2 linked regions of the Homo sapiens genome follow. The protein of the gene in region 1 purifies or fractionates together with the protein of each later gene. This does not show direct contact. Each region holds a gene or a part of one and is shown in the gene's direction. Other genes may lie near its edges.

What was found. Proteins that work in one complex are often made in the same cells at the same time.
Region 2: the proteins of INTS4 (region 1) and ADD2 purify together in Homo sapiens (affinity purification with mass spectrometry; one large-scale study listed by BioGRID and IntAct). This does not show direct contact.

What each region holds. Positions count from the first base shown.
Region 1 is NC_000011.10:77,987,485-77,992,440, reverse strand, and holds part of INTS4 (integrator complex subunit 4), read left to right. Parts: intron 1-1,141; coding exon 1,142-1,333; intron 1,334-4,956. UniProt on the Homo sapiens protein: Component of the integrator complex, a multiprotein complex that terminates RNA polymerase II (Pol II) transcription in the promoter-proximal region of genes.
Region 2 is NC_000002.12:70,757,303-70,762,258, reverse strand, and holds part of ADD2 (beta-adducin), read left to right. Parts: intron 1-4,956. UniProt on the Homo sapiens protein: Membrane-cytoskeleton-associated protein that promotes the assembly of the spectrin-actin network. Binds to the erythrocyte membrane receptor SLC2A1/GLUT1 and may therefore provide a link between the spectrin cytoskeleton to the plasma membrane.

The sequences.
Region 1 (4,956 bases):
GTGTAAGCCACTACGCCCATCGGATATTTGTTTCCTTTTCTTCTGTTTTGAGATGGAGTTTCGCTCTTTTCGCCCAAACTGGTGTGCAGTTGCGCAATCCTAGCTCACTGCAACTTCTGCCTCCTGGGTTCACGCAATCCTCAGCCTCCTGCATAGCTGGGACTGCAGGCATACACCACCACCCCCAGCTAATTTTTGTGTTTTTAGTAGAGATGGGGTTTTGCCATGTTGGCCAGGCTGGTCTTGAACTCCTGGCCTCAAGTGATCCGCCTGCCTAAGCCTCTCAAAGTGCTGGGATTACAGGCATGAGCCACCATGCCATGTCTGATATTTGTTTTCTAATAAAGAATGGACTTTGGGAGACTGAAGCAGAGGGATCACTTGAGGCCAGAAGTTCGAAACCAGCCTGGGTAACATGGCAAAACCTGTCTCTACTAGAAATACAAAAATTAGCCATGTGTGGTGGCACACACCTGTAATTCCAGCTAGTTGGGAGTCAGGGAGGTGAATCGCTTGAACGTAGTAGGTGGAGGTGGCACACACCTATAATCCCAGCATGTTGGGTGTCAGTCAGAGAATCATTTGAACCTAGGAGGTGGAGATTGCAGCAAGCCAAGATTGCACCATTGCACTCCTGCCTGGGCGACAGTGTCTTGCTCTGTCTCAAAAAAATGGAGTAGATCCTTTGTGTGACCTCTAAACCCAAAGGCTACCACAATCCTCAGAGATAGGTAGAGCAAAATGTTAGTGTAAGGCTGGGCACCGTGGCTCATGCTTGTAATCCCAGCACTTTGGGAGGCTGAGGTGCCAGGATTGCTTGAGCCCAGGAGTTAAGACCAGCCTGGGCAACATAGAGAGACTCCATCTCTAAGAAAAAAAAAAAGTATACCTATTTTACAGAGACATAAACTGAGACTCGGAGAAATTAAATGACTTGCCTAAAGTCATAGGAACTGGTAAAGGCAAAATTGAGACTCATGGCCTTGTCACCAACCCGGTACTCTTTCTGGTTTATAATACTGTATTTTCCTAAGTCCATCAGCTAAATATATTATTTGGTATAATGGAAAATCATTTCCACCAAATGAGGCAAAGTTAAATTTGCAGATTCTGTGTTTTCGATTTTCTCTACCCCTTGCAGCCACAGGAGGAAATTGCTACTAAGAAACTCCGACTAACAAAACCAAGTAAATCTGCAGCACTCCACATAGATCTGTGTAAAGCTACCTCCCCAGCAGATGCTTTGCAATACTTGCTCCAGTTTGCCAGGAAGCCTGTCGAGGCGGAAAGCGTAGAGGGAGTAGTCAGGATTCTCTTGGAACATTATTACAAGGTAAGAAAATCTTGAGGATCTGATGGGAGTATATCATGGGAGTTGTATCATGTCTGCAGAATGGTTAATATTACAAATAAATAGGGTATTCATTAGGAAGCTTTTATTGAGTGTCTTCCAAGTGCTAGGTACTATGGATACCGAGATAAAAAAGATACAGATCTTGACCTCAGAAAGTTATACTGTGTATAGTAGATGGAAACAAGACATGTCAATGATAAGGTGCATCATACTGCTGAAGTTACTGTGAGTGCAGTATGTGCAGAGTACAGTGGAAGCACAAAAGAGGAGTAAATATCAATCATGACCCATTCATCTCTGGAATGTGGTCCTGCTGTTCCTTTCCTAATTCATGGCCCTCATATCTAATTGCAGTGGCCCTCTTTTTTAATTAAAAATACATTTTTTTTTTTTTTTTTTTGGAGACAGAGTCTCGCTCTGTTGCCCATGCTGGAGTGCAGTAGTGCAATCTTGGCTCGCTGCAACCTCTGCCTCCTGGGTTCAAGCGATTCTCCTGCCTCAGCCTCCTTAGTAGCTGGGATTACAGGCACGTGCCACCACACCCTGCTAATTTTTGTATTTTTAGTAGAGACGGGGTTTTGCCATGTTGGCCAGGCTGGTCTCGAACTCCTGACTTTAAGTGATGCAGCCACCTTGGCCTCCCAAAGTGTTAGGATTACAGGCGTGAGCCACTGCGTCTGGCCAAAAAAACTGTTTTTGAGACAGAGGCTCACTGTCACCCAGCCTAGAGTTTAGTGGCATCATCATAGGTCACTGTAGCCTGGAACTCCTGGGCTTAAGTGATTCTCCTGGCTCAGCCTTCCACGTAGGTGGGACTGCAGACGTGCCACTACTCCAGGCTAAGTTTTGCATTTTTTTTTTTTTTTTTTTTGAGACTTGGTCTGTCACTCAGCCTGGAGTATAGTGGTGGCACAATCTTGGCTCACTGCAACCTCCGTCTCTTTGGTTTAAGTGATTCTCCTGCGTCAGCCTCCAGAGTGGCTAGGACCGCAGGTGTGTGACACCACACCCAGCTAATTTTTTTTGTATTTTTAGTAGAGGTGGGGTTTTGCTGTGTTGGCCAGGCTGGTCTTGTACTCCTGACCTCAAGTGATCCATGCACCCTGGCCTCCCAAAGTGCTGGGATTGCAAGCGTGAGCTACCATTCCCAGCCCAAAAATCATTATTATTATTACTATTATTATTTTTGAGATGGGGTCTTGCTTTCTCGCCCAGGCGGGAGTGCAGTGGTGCTATCACGGCTCACTGTACCCTCGACCTCCGAGGCTCAATTGATCCTCCTGCCTCAGCCTTCTGAGTAGCTGGGACTACAGGCATGTGCAGCATGCCTGGCTAATTTTTGTATTTTTTTTTTTTTTTTGTAGAGACAGGGCTTTGCTATGTTGCACAGGCTGATCTCGAATTCCTGGGCTCAAGCAATCCACCCTCCTTGGGCTTCCAAATTGCTGAGATTACAGGTGTGAACCACCACACTCAGCCCCCAAATTGTTAAGCTTATGGAAAAGTAGATAAAATACTATAGTGACCTACCAAATATCCATTCCTAGAATTTAACAGTTATTAGTATTTTGCCAAATTTGCTCTATTTTTTCGCTGAATTTTATTTTATTTTGTTATTATTTTTTTTGAGATGAGTCTCACTCTGTTGCCCAGGCTGGAGTGTAATAGCACTCCTGGGTTCAAGCAGTTCTCCTGCCTCAGCCTCCCAAGTAGCTGGGACTACAGGAGTGCGCCATCACGCTCAGCTAATTCTGTATTTTTAGTAGAGATGGGGTTTCACCATGTTGGCCAGGCTAGTCTCGAATTCCAGACCTCGGGTGATCCACCTGCCTCGGCCTCCCAAAGTGCTGGGATTACAGGTGTGAGCCACCGCGCCCAGCCTTGTTTTGTTGAATTTTTAAAAAGATATGTCATTTTTTTCTAATTATTTCATTACATATCTATTAAAAAGGGATACCTTTTTGTTGTTTTCTTTTTTTTTCTCACTGCTATGAGAAAGTAGAGGGACTTTTTATTTTTTAACATAGCCACCTAACCCTAATGAATAAAGTTAAGTAATTCTTTAATGTCATCTAAGAATTAGTTGATATTTAGATTTCTGTAGTTGTTCTCCCAGTACCTTTTTATAGTTGATGTATTCAAATCAAAATGCAAACCAGGTCCCCACATGGCATTCAGTCTTTTCAAAAATCTACAACAGTTACTATTTTGGTGACATTGATTTGATGAAGAAACTGAGACAGTTCTTTTGTAAAATGTCTTGTTTTCTGAATTCATTTACTTCTTTAAGGATTAACTTGTTCCTCTGTTCTCTGTATTTACTATGAACTGAAAGTTAGATCTATAGGCTTTGTTAGATTTAAGTTAAGCATATTTTTGACAATTTTAAGACTATGTTATAAATGGTGACTTGTACTTCATATTGCAGCTATCAGCATGCAAATGTCACCGTTACATTGAGGTCTTCCTTTACCCTTCTGTTTCATATCGAAACTGCCTATCCCCACCCCGCACTTCCTAGTCCCCTTCCTTGATTTTGTTTTCTCCATAGTAATTACCATCTTCTAATATTCTGTATAATTTCTTGTTAATTATGTTCCTTGTCCATTTCCCCATGCAGGAACATAAGCTTCCCTTGAGCAGGGATTTTTATGTTTTTTAATTGTTGTTTCTACAGAATCAAGAACAGTGCCTGGTAAAATAAATATTTGTTGAATGAATAAATGAATTAATTGATGCTTTTGTGATACATTTTACTCAACAAATATATATCAGACTTTGTTCTGGGCACTGGACGGTGTCCATTAGCACAATTGTTAAGTCTTATGCGTTGCAATTGTTTGCCATATGTGTCTATCTCCTTCAGACTTTGAGCTCCGTAAATTCAGAGGCTGCAGATCCATTAGTCTCTATCCCAGTGCCTGGCAGGTTCCTAGGAACATTGAAGGGACATTATAAATGTTTCACTTATGTTTTACGTGAATAAAATCAGGCTTTCTTTTTTTGTTGTTCTTTTCTTTAAAAAATTTTTTAAAAAATCGTATCTATCTATCTAGAGACTGGGTTATGAGACTGGCTAATTTTTATATTTTTGATAGAGATGAGGTTTCACCATGTTACCAAGGTTGGTCTCAAACTCCTGGGCTCAAGCGATTCACCTACCTCAGCCTCCCAAAGTGCTGGGATTACAGGCATGAACCACTGTGCCTGGCATCTTTTTGAGTGTTGCTCTGTTGCCCAATCTAGAGTGCAATGGCGTGATCACTGCCCACTGAAGTCTGGACTCCCAGGCTCAAGCCATCCTCCCACCTCAGCCTCCTGAGGAGCTGGGACCACAGGCACATGCCACCACTCCCGGCTAATTTTTTCTTTTTAATTTTTTTTGTAGAGATGGAGTCTCTCTGTGTTGCCCAGGCTGGTCGCGAATTCCTGAGCTCAAGCAACCCTCCTGCTTGGCCCTCCCAAAGGATTGGGATTACAGACGTGAGCTACCACATCTGACCAAAATCAGGATTTCTGTTCTCAAGAAGTTTTCGATCTCTCAGTGATCTATTTTCCGTTAGTCTTTTTCTTAGCAATATCTACCATTATTATTATATTAA
Region 2 (4,956 bases), on another chromosome or scaffold:
TCTCTTTCTTCTTAAGCTTTCTTCTTTTACGTCATTTTGATTTTTGTCTATTTTAAGCATCATAATTGGATTTTTAATCCAATTGTGACTCAATTTACATTTATTATATGTGATACAGTCACAGATCTTCTAAAATTTTATTTTACATTAAAAAAATTCCAAGCTATTTTTCCACCCCCTTTCTTAACTTAAATGTAGTGTAAGAGTCCCTTGTTCTTTAGATAAAAGGGAAATTTTCTGCCCATTTTTTTCTACTAGTCTTCATTAACATTAAAAAATATAGTTGTGTTGGCCAGGCGCGGTGGCTCACGCCTGTAATCCCAGCACTTCAGGAGGCCAGGGCGGGTAGATCGTGAGGTCAGGAGATCGGCCATCCTGGCTAATATGGTGAAACCCCGTCTGTACTAAAAATACAAAAAATTAGCCAGGCGTGGTGGCGGGCACCTGTAGTCCCAGCTACTCGGGAGGCTGAGGCAGGAGAATGGCATGAACCCGGGAGGCAGAGCTTGCAGTGAGCCGAGATTGCACCACTGCACTCCAGCCTGAGCAACAGAACGATACTCTGTCTCAAAAAAAAAAAAAGTTGTGTCTATTTGTTCTTTCATAAATAATGAGAGATTTAGTATACTTTAATTCCTTCCTTCCTTCCTTTTTTTTTTTTTTTTTTCTGTCACCCAGGCTGGAGTGCAGTGGTACAATCTCATCTCACTGCAACCTCTGTCTCCTGGGTTCAAGTGATTCTTGTGCCTCAGCCTCCTGAGTAGCTGGGATTACAGGCACCTGCCACCACGCCCGGCTAATTTTGTATTTTTAGTAGAGACCAGGTTTCACCATGTTGGCCAGGCAGGTCTCAAACTCCTGATCTCAGGTGATCCACCCACCTCGGCCTCCCAAAGTGCTGGGATTACAGGTGTAAGCCACTGTGCCCAGCTTTAATTTCTTTTTTGTTGCCCATCTACCCCCACTAACTTTTTGCCTTAAAAACATTTTGGCTTTTAGATCCAGATTATTGTCTTTAAAAAAAAAAAAAAGTAATGCATGCTTTTGCTTTCCAGAATTATTTTTGACATTTATGTTTCCTAACCATACTAACAGCTGCTATCTAGACTGAGAGTTACATAGGTTACAATACTCAGTCCATTTCCTATGCTCAATCTTCATTTTTACTTATTCCTTGATTAGTTGGAATCTTTTTCAGGAAAGATAGTATATTCCGGTAGTTCTTGCTTGCCTAAGAACTTCTTTATGTTGCTGTTTCACAGTAACATCATCCTTTTGGGGCATACACTTCTTCATCTTAATCTTTTTACCTAAAAACTCCAAATATTATTCTTTTGTCTTCTGGCATTTTGTATGATGGAAGATAAGTTGTGGCCAACTTTATCAAAATAACTATGAAAGTCCACAAAAGTTTTGTTTCTTTCCCTTGTAATGACTACTTTATTTAAAAAAACCTTAAAATATATAAAACATAACACAGATATAGGAAAGGACATGAAACAAATGTGCAGTTTAGTGAAATATTATAAAGTGAATGCCCGTGTGACCACCATGCAGGTCAAGAAGCAGGACACAGCCAGCTCCCAGAGCCCAGTGCACCCTTGAACCACACCCTGCTTCCCCCTGGAGGTAACAACTCACCTTCCTTTTATGGTAACCATTTTCTTGCTTGCTTTTATAATTTTATAATCTAAATTTGCATCCTCAAACAAAGTACATCAGACTTGTTTCTCTGAAACTTTAAAAAATTAGAACTGTACCATTTGTATCTTATTCATTGTTATAACATCTCCATGGTGACTACTTTGATGCTTCAAAAAATATATATCAAATTTATTCCAAGAATATTTGGAGCCCTACTTTGCTTGGTGCTCTAAATTGGGGAATCCAGCACAGCCAAGAAGGAAGTGGTTTGTGTAAGACAGTGGTCAGTTTTAGACAAGACGAGTTTGAGGTGGGGATGGCCAGCAGAGAGGCAGACGTATGCATGTGTCATGGCTGGGACCCGAGATCTGAGTTGCAGGTTCAGGGTTATAAACACGCACGTGTAGGTTTCAAGATGGCACCATGGACCTAAATATTTGCCTTTCTTTTCTTCAAAGTGTCCAAAGACAAATATAGTAAGGAAAACATCGATTTGAGTTTTAGAGAAGAGAACAAACACTGGGCCTAGATTCTTTAAGGACTCTGTAAAAGTTAGAGTACAGATGGTGCCAGCCAATATCACCCAGCCCATGAGTATCAACAAGGGGCTTTCCTGGGAAGAAGCAGTGGTGTCCTCTCAGCTGAGTGCTAGTATCCCCAGGCTCAATGAAACAGGGCTAGATGGGCTGTGGTATGGTCAGTGGGGTGGGGATGAGGGATATAAATCTAAGGGCCGTGGGAAATCTATCAGCACTGCCACCTTGAGTGGCAGATCCCCATCTTAGTCTGCCTGTGTTGCTATGAAGGAATATCCAAGGCTGGGTAATTTATAGAGAAAAGGTTTACTTTTCTCATGATTCTACTGGCTGGAAGACTGGGCAGCTTGTGGAAGCCTCAGGCCACTTCCACTCCTGACAGAAAGCAAAGGGGAGCTGGCGTGTGCAGAGATCACATGGCAAGAGAGGAAGCAAGAGAGAGGGGAGGAGATGCCAGGCTCTTCTTAACAACCAGCTGTCATGGGAATGAAAAGAGTGAGAACTCACTCACTACTGCAAGAATGGCTCCAAGCCATTCATGAGGGATCCACCACCATGACCCAAACACCTCCCACCAGGTACCCCCTCCTTCAACATGGGCTTTGGAGGGATCAAATATCCAAACCACAGCACCCTCAGTTCCTCAGACATGTGCTGAGGGAGCTCCCAGTAAAGTGGGGATTTAATATATCCAGCTTCAAACAAGGTTGATTCTGATCACTTCACCAGATGCAGCTAAAAATAAAGATACAAAAGTATGTAAATAAACGCTATTCCACCCAGCAGTAAATACCTGTAATGTATTTGATCTAACATAGGGCCTCATCCTGCAAGCTTCCAGGGCAGGATCTGGAGGCCAGGGAGCTTAGGATCTAGGTACCTGAATACAAATTTCAGTGCTCCATTTAATGCCTGGAATGGTTTTCTCTGTGCCTTTTTTCCAGCTGTGAAGTGGCTGAAAAAAACTTTCTAAGCCAAGTAGTAAATCCCTGTGGCTTCTATCAGTAGCAGCTCTAAGGACCATTTGACATCCTTCACCCCATCCCCATGGCTCCCTGAATTGATGACAATTCTAGTAGTTTCCATGAGTCCAGGCTAGACTTTGGTTTCCATGTCGATGTTGCCTTCCATTCTGCCTGGGCTACTTTGCTTGGGTTCCTGTTTCATATGGCCACACTGCCCCTGGCTGAAACTCTGGATTACTTTAGAGTCCCCCCACCTTCTTCCCTGCTTCCAGCCCAGTCTTCCTCCATCCATAGTTTATTATTATTGTTTTTCTGAGACAAGGTCTCGCTCTGTTGCCCAGGCTGGAGTGCAGCAGTGCAATCATGGCTCACTGCAGCCTTAACCTCCTGGGCTCAAGCAATCCTCCCATCTCAACCTCCCAAGTAGCTGGGAGTACAGTGTATGCCAACATGCCTGGCTTATTTTTTTTAAAATTCTGGTAGAGACGAGGTCTCACTATGTTGCATAGTTGATCTTTTTAAAACAAAAATCTAATCTCATCATTTCTCTACCCTCCGGATAAAGCCCAAGCTCCTTACCTGCCTCAACTGCTTTTCCTCTTTTTCCTTTACGCTCTACCCTCTAGGTAGGCTGAACTACTCCATTTTTCTGAACATGCTTTCCCACCCTCCCAACCCTTCCAAAACAACTCTTTCCACCTCCTTATATGCCCTCTCCCCACCTTTTATCCAGCCAGTTAGTTCTTTTAGAAAGCCAATAAAATAGGCAAACTTCCAGAAAGCCTAATTAAGATACAAAGGCAAAAAAATTCACAAAGCTAGAAATGACATATGGAGCAGCATGGAGAAAAGATGTAAAATCTCAAGAACATTGTGCATTATTGTATCCCATCATCTGTGAAAATCTTGATGAAATGGACTATTTCCACTGAAAATATGCATTACCAATATTTACTCAAGAAACAGAATGTCATGTTCCCAGATGGGAAGAACCGATGTTATAAAGATGTCGATCCCTCACAGTTCCTGCCGCGTGAATGGCAGCCTCCCTGGTAACCAGAAGTGATGGAGATTTGTTCCTATTTTTACGTTCCTTCGGTAATTTTCTGTGGAATTTTGAAAGGGTCGTTAAATGTTTGTGCTTGATTGTGAATCATTTTATTGAAGGGAAAATCAATACAAGGGCATTTGAATGTTATTTTTAAATTGTTTTTCTCAAAGAACAAATGAAGTTATTAAACTTTGAAATGCATGGAGGCTTTATGAAACAATTTCATTTAACAATGGATGTGATTTTCTGCTTGTGTTATTTTATTGAGTATGAATTTTATCATGTTTGCTTTCTTTACTCGGCATGGAGTCTCCATAAGAATATCTAGGGGTTTACTTTCAAAAATCTACCGTGAAAAGACAGGACAGGAAAAGTGAGGGCGGGTTTGATTCTTTCCTGCTTTCCTCATGTCAGATGGCAGAGCATCCATACTGATTATCTCAGCATCCCTTTTTTTAGAATTTATTCTCCTTCCCTCTTAACACCATATTTCTCTTAAATCTTTCCAACACCCTCATTTGTGTCTTAAATTAGCTACGTCTGTTACCATAGTTATGCAGTATCCAGCTTAACCATTCCACACTCATTCCCACCATACTGTGTGTGAGACTTCCTCTCTCTTATTTCATAAAATATATCATTATTTTTCTTTATTCGTCTCCTGTCCCCAAACTTTTAGTTTTTAAGGCAACACTTGTTCATACTTAATGAATCAAATAGGACTGAAGGGCTTCTAATAAAAGGCAACAATCCCTGTACA